2 linked regions of the Homo sapiens genome follow. The protein of the gene in region 1 purifies or fractionates together with the protein of each later gene. This does not show direct contact. Each region holds a gene or a part of one and is shown in the gene's direction. Other genes may lie near its edges.

Region 1 (3,500 bases):
GAGAAAAGCTCATTTGACACCTCGCATCTGGGCCAGGAAAGGAAGTGGGTGGGAGGAGCCTGGGGCACTTGGGGAGCTGAACAGCAAGGGAGGCCTCAGAACAGAACGGGGGCTGTCCCAGCACATGGAGCCCACGGCAGGCACTCCCTCAACGCGGGATAGAAGCCTGGGGATTAAGGAGGGACTAAAGCAGATTGAAATATATAATTATATGTACAATCTTGAGTTCATAATAATGAGTTTTTAAAAAGACCTCACATTAATTTTTTGGGTGCTAGAACATCAACTCATTATTCCAAAAAGTGATAGAAAGAGAAAAGGGTTGTGATGTCCTTCCTGTAGGAAACATACTCAGGGCAGATGCATGGTTTTTGAGGGAACAGAAGATTCTAGGTAATAAACTCAACAAATGATAAAACTGGAAAACCATCATTTGAAACCCCCAATGAAATGGTGACTCTAGGCCCTCAGAGGATGCTGGTCAGGGGTTGATGGGATCGTCACGATGAGGGTTCAGGGTTGCCTCAAACCCTCTAAGCACTTTCTCCTGAGTGGACGCTGCTCAGGGGTTGATAGGATCTTCACGACGAGGGTTCAGGGTTGCCTCAAACCCTCTAAGCACTCGCAGCTTCCCTGAAGTTGGGATGCAGAGACATGATGTCCCGAGGTGGTGCAGCAGGTGGGACACAGTGGGACTGATGAAGCACTTTTGCTTCAAAATCAAACCAGCATCTAATCAAGTCTTGGGGACAGTCATTTTAAAGGAGAGAAAACCATCTGCCAAGCCAGAATGCGGACATTTCACAGAACAGACTGCCTGGCTTCTCTAGTAATAACTTTTGTTTTTAAAGGCAGGAGGACACAGTAGAATGAGACGTGTCAGCCTCAGTGTGTCCTGGTTTGGAGCCTGGTGTGCACGAGCCACCTGTCACAGGCGAGCTTGGCGTGCACGAGCCGACTGTCACAGGCAAGCCTGGCATGCACGAGCTGACTGTCACAGGCATTGTTGGGACAGTGGGGGAAGTCCGAATGTGTCCTGGGTATATAGGGGGGCAAACCTTCTCCTCTATCCTCCTAGGGTCCCTGGTGGAGCCTGAGAATGGAATTGGCCTAAGGCAGGTTGACGGGGAAGAGCATCGGATTTGTTGAATGTGGGGTCTACCTGACACAGAGCCCCCCGGAAAATGAAGAGTTGAGGAGTGGCACAGCCTGCACGCTGCCCTGCGGGGTTGGGCAGAGGCCACTGTGGACAAGCAACCAAATGAGATGGGAGACAGAGGGAAGGCGAGGGCTGTGCTAACAGGTCTGTCTGTGCAGAGCTGCTCAGCTTCGACCCTGTATTAGCCAGGGATCTCTAGAGGGACAGAACGAATGGAATAGATACATATGTAGAGGAGAGTTTATTAGGTATTAACTCACACGATCACAAGGTCCCACAACAGCCATCTGCACGCTGAGGAGCAAGGAGAGCCAGTCCGAGATCCAAAGCTGAAGAACTTGGAGTCCGATGTTCGAGGGTAGGAAGCATCCAGCACGGGAGAAGGATGTAGGCTGGGAGGCTAGGCCAGTCTCTCTCTTCACATTTTTCTGCCTGCTTTATATTTGCTGGCGGCTGATTAGACGGTGCCCACCCAGATTAAGGGCGGGTCTGCCTTTCTCACCCCACTGACTCCAATGTTAATTTCCTTTGGCAACAGCCTCACAGCCACACCCAAGATCAATACTTTGTATCCTTTAATCCGCTGATCAAGTTGACGCTCGGTATTAACCATCACAGACCCCATCTACTGACGAGAACATGCTTTGTTCCTGGCCCAGCAAGGGCGGCTCTCATGGGAGGGTCAGGTCCTGCCTTCAGTGCAGGAGGAAGAGGGGAAGCTGGAGTGCTCTGCATGAGCCTCCTGCTTCTCAGGAACCTTTAAGTAAAGATAATCCTGATGCCAAAGTGGCATATTTTGGGGTGACATGTTCTGCCACTCTCCATGTGACATTAATTTTGTAAAGTGTGATGAATGGCATGGTGATTGTATTCTATTTCTTTTTTTTTTTTTTAGCGATGGGGGGGTCTCACTATGTTGCCCAGGCTAGTCTTGAACTCCTGGCTTATGTGATCCTCCTGCTTTGGCCTCCCAAAGTGCTAGGATTGTAGGCGTGAGCCACCACACCGGGCAAATTGTGCTTTAAAAGTGTTCTTATCATTTAAAAATGCAGCCTGTAATACTCAGCAATACAACGATCTGTTGTCTGGTTTTGAATGTACAGTATGCTGAGGAAAGGGAGGTGGGTTTTGCAGGAGTGTCTGTGAAACAAGACTGGCCGGATATTCCACACTTGTGGCACCGGGCGATTGCACCTGAGGACGTCTTGTGCTGTTTCCCCCATTTCTGTGTACGTTACAAAGTCCCCAGTGAGAACAGTTAAAAAAATGCTGGGCCTCTCCTTCATTCAGCTTATTATGGTGATCACAAGATGAATTTAGAAAGCACATGAAATGCTAAACACTTCACTAACATTGATAATTTTGAATTCAGGAAAATCTCAGGTCATGTAGGACACAATGGCCATTTTGAAGATGATTTTGTGTCACGTTGATTACCATATGCGGTTCTACAAGGCCCGTCACCTGAATCAGTCTGATGATGGTTACGTATTGTAAACTTTAGAAACTCTTTTTCAAAAGGTAGTTTTAGTTAACGGACTGATAGCCTTATACTTTTTAAAAAGGCCAAGAAAATTGTTATAGCCATACTTTAAAATTGCTCTTACTATGTCCCCAGAAAGAAAAACTTTTACAATTCTTTATTTTAAAGTATTATTGATTGATTGATTGATTCAGCTTTATTTAGGTAAAATCGACAAAAATTGTATACATTCGACATCTACAACATGATAATTTAATATACAGATGTATATGATTACCATCCATCTTTGGATGACACATGTGGTAATCAGTTTTACAACTGAGCATGGTGGCTCACACTTGTAATCCTAGCACTTTGGGAGGCCAAGGCAGATGGATCACCTGAGGCCAGGAGTTCGACACCAGCCTGGCCAACATGGTGAAACCCTGTCTCTACTAAAAATACAAAAAATTAGCTGGGCGTGGTGGTGGGCGCCTGTAGTCCCAGCTACTTGGGAGGCTGAGGTAGGAGATCGCTTGAATCCGGGAGGCAGAGGCTGCAGTGAGCTGAGATTGAATCATTGCACTCCAGCCTGGGCAACAAGAATGAGACTCCATCTCAAAACAAAAACAAAAACAAACACAAAACCATACAATCAGTAAAATGATTACCACAGTCAATGGTAATGACTACCAGGATGGCTAAAGAGTAGAAAGGGGGATTTTATCAGTGATATCAGTTTGCAAACTGAGAAGAGACAGTCTCCAGCTCTCTCTGTTAAAAGGTGAACTCCAGGACACACAGTTTGTGCACAGTCTGTATAAGCTGGCCGAAAATAGCTGGAGGTCTGCAGCTGCTTCTCAGGAAAGAATTGTGCAA
Region 2 (3,500 bases), on another chromosome or scaffold:
AAATGTGATTTCCTTCAGTATTTTTGTTTTGGCATAACAACTGTCTGGAAAAAAATTTGTATTTGTACCAGGCAGGGCATTGGCAGATACTGGTACCATTTGATTTGTAAATCAACAAACTGGATTGTATGACCAAAGTGTTTTTATTTATTTTTTTGTTTCTGTTTACTTTTTAAGAGACAGGGTCTTGCTCTGTTGCCCAGGCTGGAGTGCAGTGGTTCAATCATGGTTCACTGGAGCCTCAACCTCCCAGACTCAAGTGATCCTCCACCTCAGCCTCCTGAGTAGCTGGGACTACAGGCACAACCCACTACGCCCAACTAATTTTTATTTTTTATTTTTTATTTTTTTGAGACAGAGTCTCGCTCTGTTGCCCAGGCTGGAGTGCAGTGGCTCGATCTCGGCTCACTGTAAGCTCCACCTCCCGGCTTCACACCATTCTCCTGCCTCAGCCTCCCGGGTAGCTGGGACTACAGGCACCTGCCACCACGCCTGGCTAATGTTTTGTATTTTTAGTAGAGATGGGGTTTCACTGTGTTAGCCAGGATGGTCTCAATCTCCTGACCTCATGATCCACCGGCCTTGGCCTCCCAAAGTGCTGGGATTATAGGTGTGAGCCACTGTGCCCAGGTATTTTTGTTTTTTTATAGAGATGAGGACTCCCTGTGTTGCCCAGGTTGGTTTCTAACTCCTAGGCTCAAGCAGTCCTCCCGCCTCAGCCTCCCAAAGTGCTGGGATTACAGGAGTGAGATATTACACCTGGTTTCAAAGTGTTTTTAATACAAGAATGAGGATTGCACACTGATAGCAAGGGTGTGGGGGGAACAAAGAATGAGGCTACTTAAGTGGGACTAATTACTAACCATCGGACTACATTGACAAAGACTAATTTTTTTCTTAATGTTCTCAATTTGGGATGAGATAGACAAAGTATGAGCAATCTGACAGTTTACCTATCCTAATTATTCTGAAATCATATTTATCCAAAGTTAAGATTTCCATTAAATTATTGTTGATGTACTTAATATTACAGGAAGGAAATGTAACATTTGCCTTTCTCAAAATTCACTTAAATCTTTTTTGTATGATTTTATATAACCACAGTATCATTCGACTATAAATTTATATTAATCAATTTATAGGCCGGGTGTGGTGGCTCACACCTGTAATCCCAGCACTTTGGGAAGCCAAGGCTGGCGGATAACCTGAGGTCAGGAGTTTGAAACCAGCCTGACTAACATGGTGAAACCCCATCTCTACTAAAAATACAAACATTTGCCAGGTGTGGTGGTGCACCCCTGTAATCCCAGCTACTCAGGATACTGAAACAGTGGAATCTCTTGAACCTGGGAGGCAGAGGTTGCAGTGAGCTGAGATCGCACCACTGCACTCCAGGCTGGGTAAGAGTGAGACTGCATCTCAAAAAAAGAAAAAAAAAATTTATATGCATGAATTTTTTTTGTTGGTCTTACTGCTCATTTGTTATATACATGAATTTTAATGGCATTATTGTGTTCACCTATTGATAAAATACGATTTGCATAGATATTCCTCTGTTGAGCATCAAGGTGGTTTCTGATCACTAATTGCTCTAATCTTTCTATAATATTTAAGAAGTATTGATTCAATGAGGGAAATAACAGGTTTTGAGGTACGGAGAGGAGACCTAGAATAGGAAAGAATATGAGCAACAGAGGCCGGGCGCGGTAGCTCACGCCTGTAATCCCAGCACTTTGGGAGGCCAAGGCAGGCGGATCACGAGGTCAAGAGATCAAGACCAGCCTGGCTAACATGGTGAAACCCTGTCTCTACTAAAAATACAAAAAAAATTAGCTGGGCGTGGTGGCGGGTGCCTGTAATCCCAGCTACTCGGGAGGCTGAGGCAAGAGAATGGCGTGAACCTGGGAGGCAGAGCTTGTAGTGAGTTGAGATCGCACCACTGCACTCCAGCCTGGGCGACAGAGCGAGACTCCATCTCAAAAATAAATAAATAATAAAATAAATATCTATCTATATATATATATATGTGAGCAACAGTGTTTTACACCTTTGTTTATTTAGGGACAATAAAATGTTTTTATCAGCGGCTCGGTTTCCTCATTTATTTTTTGCTCCCCAGGCCTTTACAAAAACTTCTAGTGTCATAGAATTTGAATTGTCTCAACTGTTGGGTATGGGATGCGATTTTGAATGATGGCCACTTTGTGTCTATAAAGGTGCTGTTGTCAAGACCAATGCCAATGCAGAGAAGACAGATGAAGAAGAGAAAGGTAACACAGCCGTGGAGCTTTATATAATAACAAGCTTCTACATTCTAAGAAAGTGGATTGTTATGAGGCTTCATTTTTATACCCAGTTTGGCTTGACTTTAATAGGCGATACAGTGCTAGCATAAAGGTTCAATATAGGGGCCGGGCACGGTGGCTTACACCTGTAATCCCAGCACTTTGGGAGGCCGAGGTGGGCAGATCACGAGGTCAGGAGATCGAGACCATCCTGGCTAACACGGTGAAAACCCGTCTCCACTAAAAATACAAAAAAAAAAAAAAAAATTAGCCGGGCATGGTGGCAGACGCCTGTAGTCCCAGCTACTTGGGATGCTGAGGCAGAAGAATGGCATGAACCCGGGAAGCAGAGCTTGCCATGAGCCGAGATCGAGCCACTGCACTCTAGCCTGGGCGAAAGAGCGAGACTCTGTCTCAAAAAAAAAAAAAAAAAAAAGTTCAATATAAATAGTCAGTAGGTGAAGGAGTTCTAATGGTTTACGTTTAGAGAAATTTTACATTTAACAACTGAACAGTTGAATAGGGCATTATAAAAAATTTTCAGTTGCATCTCTATTGTCCAGTAAAATTAAGCTTAATGTTATTTTGACACATTTGACATGGATGACGAGACCAACTTGTCCAATATTAAGGTACAGACTTTGTTAATTCCTGTTTTTTTTTTTATTGTTGTGATTGCTACATTAATTACTTTAGGTTTATATATAGTACAAATTGGGGAGTAAATATGTGGGTCTGGATAGGAGGAATAGATAACTGCAGGAAAAGAGGGCTGTTAGAATAGAGTCTGGAAAAGAATATGAGGCCTAAATGGGTGATGTATCATAACTTTTTTCTTTAATAAAACTATTTTAATTTATAAGTCAAAACTATGACGTACCTTGAATTTGAATGTTCAGTACATTATTATTTAAAATACAAATGGCAGTTGAATTAGAGTAAACGCCTGGTAGGTTTCAAGGACTTTTTAAAATTCTTTGCTTTCTTTTTCCTGACAGAGGACAGAGCTGCCCAGTCCTTACTCAACAAGCTGATCAGAAGCAACCTTGTTGATAACACAAACCAAGTGGAAGTCCTGCAGCGGGATCCAAACTCCCCTCTGTACTCGGTGAAGTCTTTTGAAGAGCTTCGGCTGTGAGTATTTATTCACCTTCTGACTCTTCCCCTTTGCACTGAAATAGAGATCCTAGGTCTGTTATAGATATCTTTTGACCA

The links. Proteins that work in one complex are often made in the same cells at the same time.
Region 2: the proteins of KIF25 (region 1) and DDX19B purify together in Homo sapiens (affinity purification with mass spectrometry; one large-scale study listed by BioGRID and IntAct). This does not show direct contact.

The regions. Positions count from the first base shown.
Region 1 is NC_000006.12:168,004,171-168,007,670, forward strand, and holds part of KIF25 (kinesin-like protein KIF25), read left to right. Parts: intron 1-3,500. UniProt on the Homo sapiens protein: Minus-end microtubule-dependent motor protein. Acts as a negative regulator of centrosome separation required to prevent premature centrosome separation during interphase.
Region 2 is NC_000016.10:70,312,686-70,316,185, forward strand, and holds part of DDX19B (ATP-dependent RNA helicase DDX19B), read left to right. Parts: intron 1-2,216; coding exon 2,217-2,270; intron 2,271-2,954; exon of another isoform or gene 2,955-3,283; coding exon 3,284-3,419; exon of another isoform or gene 3,420-3,457; intron 3,458-3,500. UniProt on the Homo sapiens protein: ATP-dependent RNA helicase involved in mRNA export from the nucleus.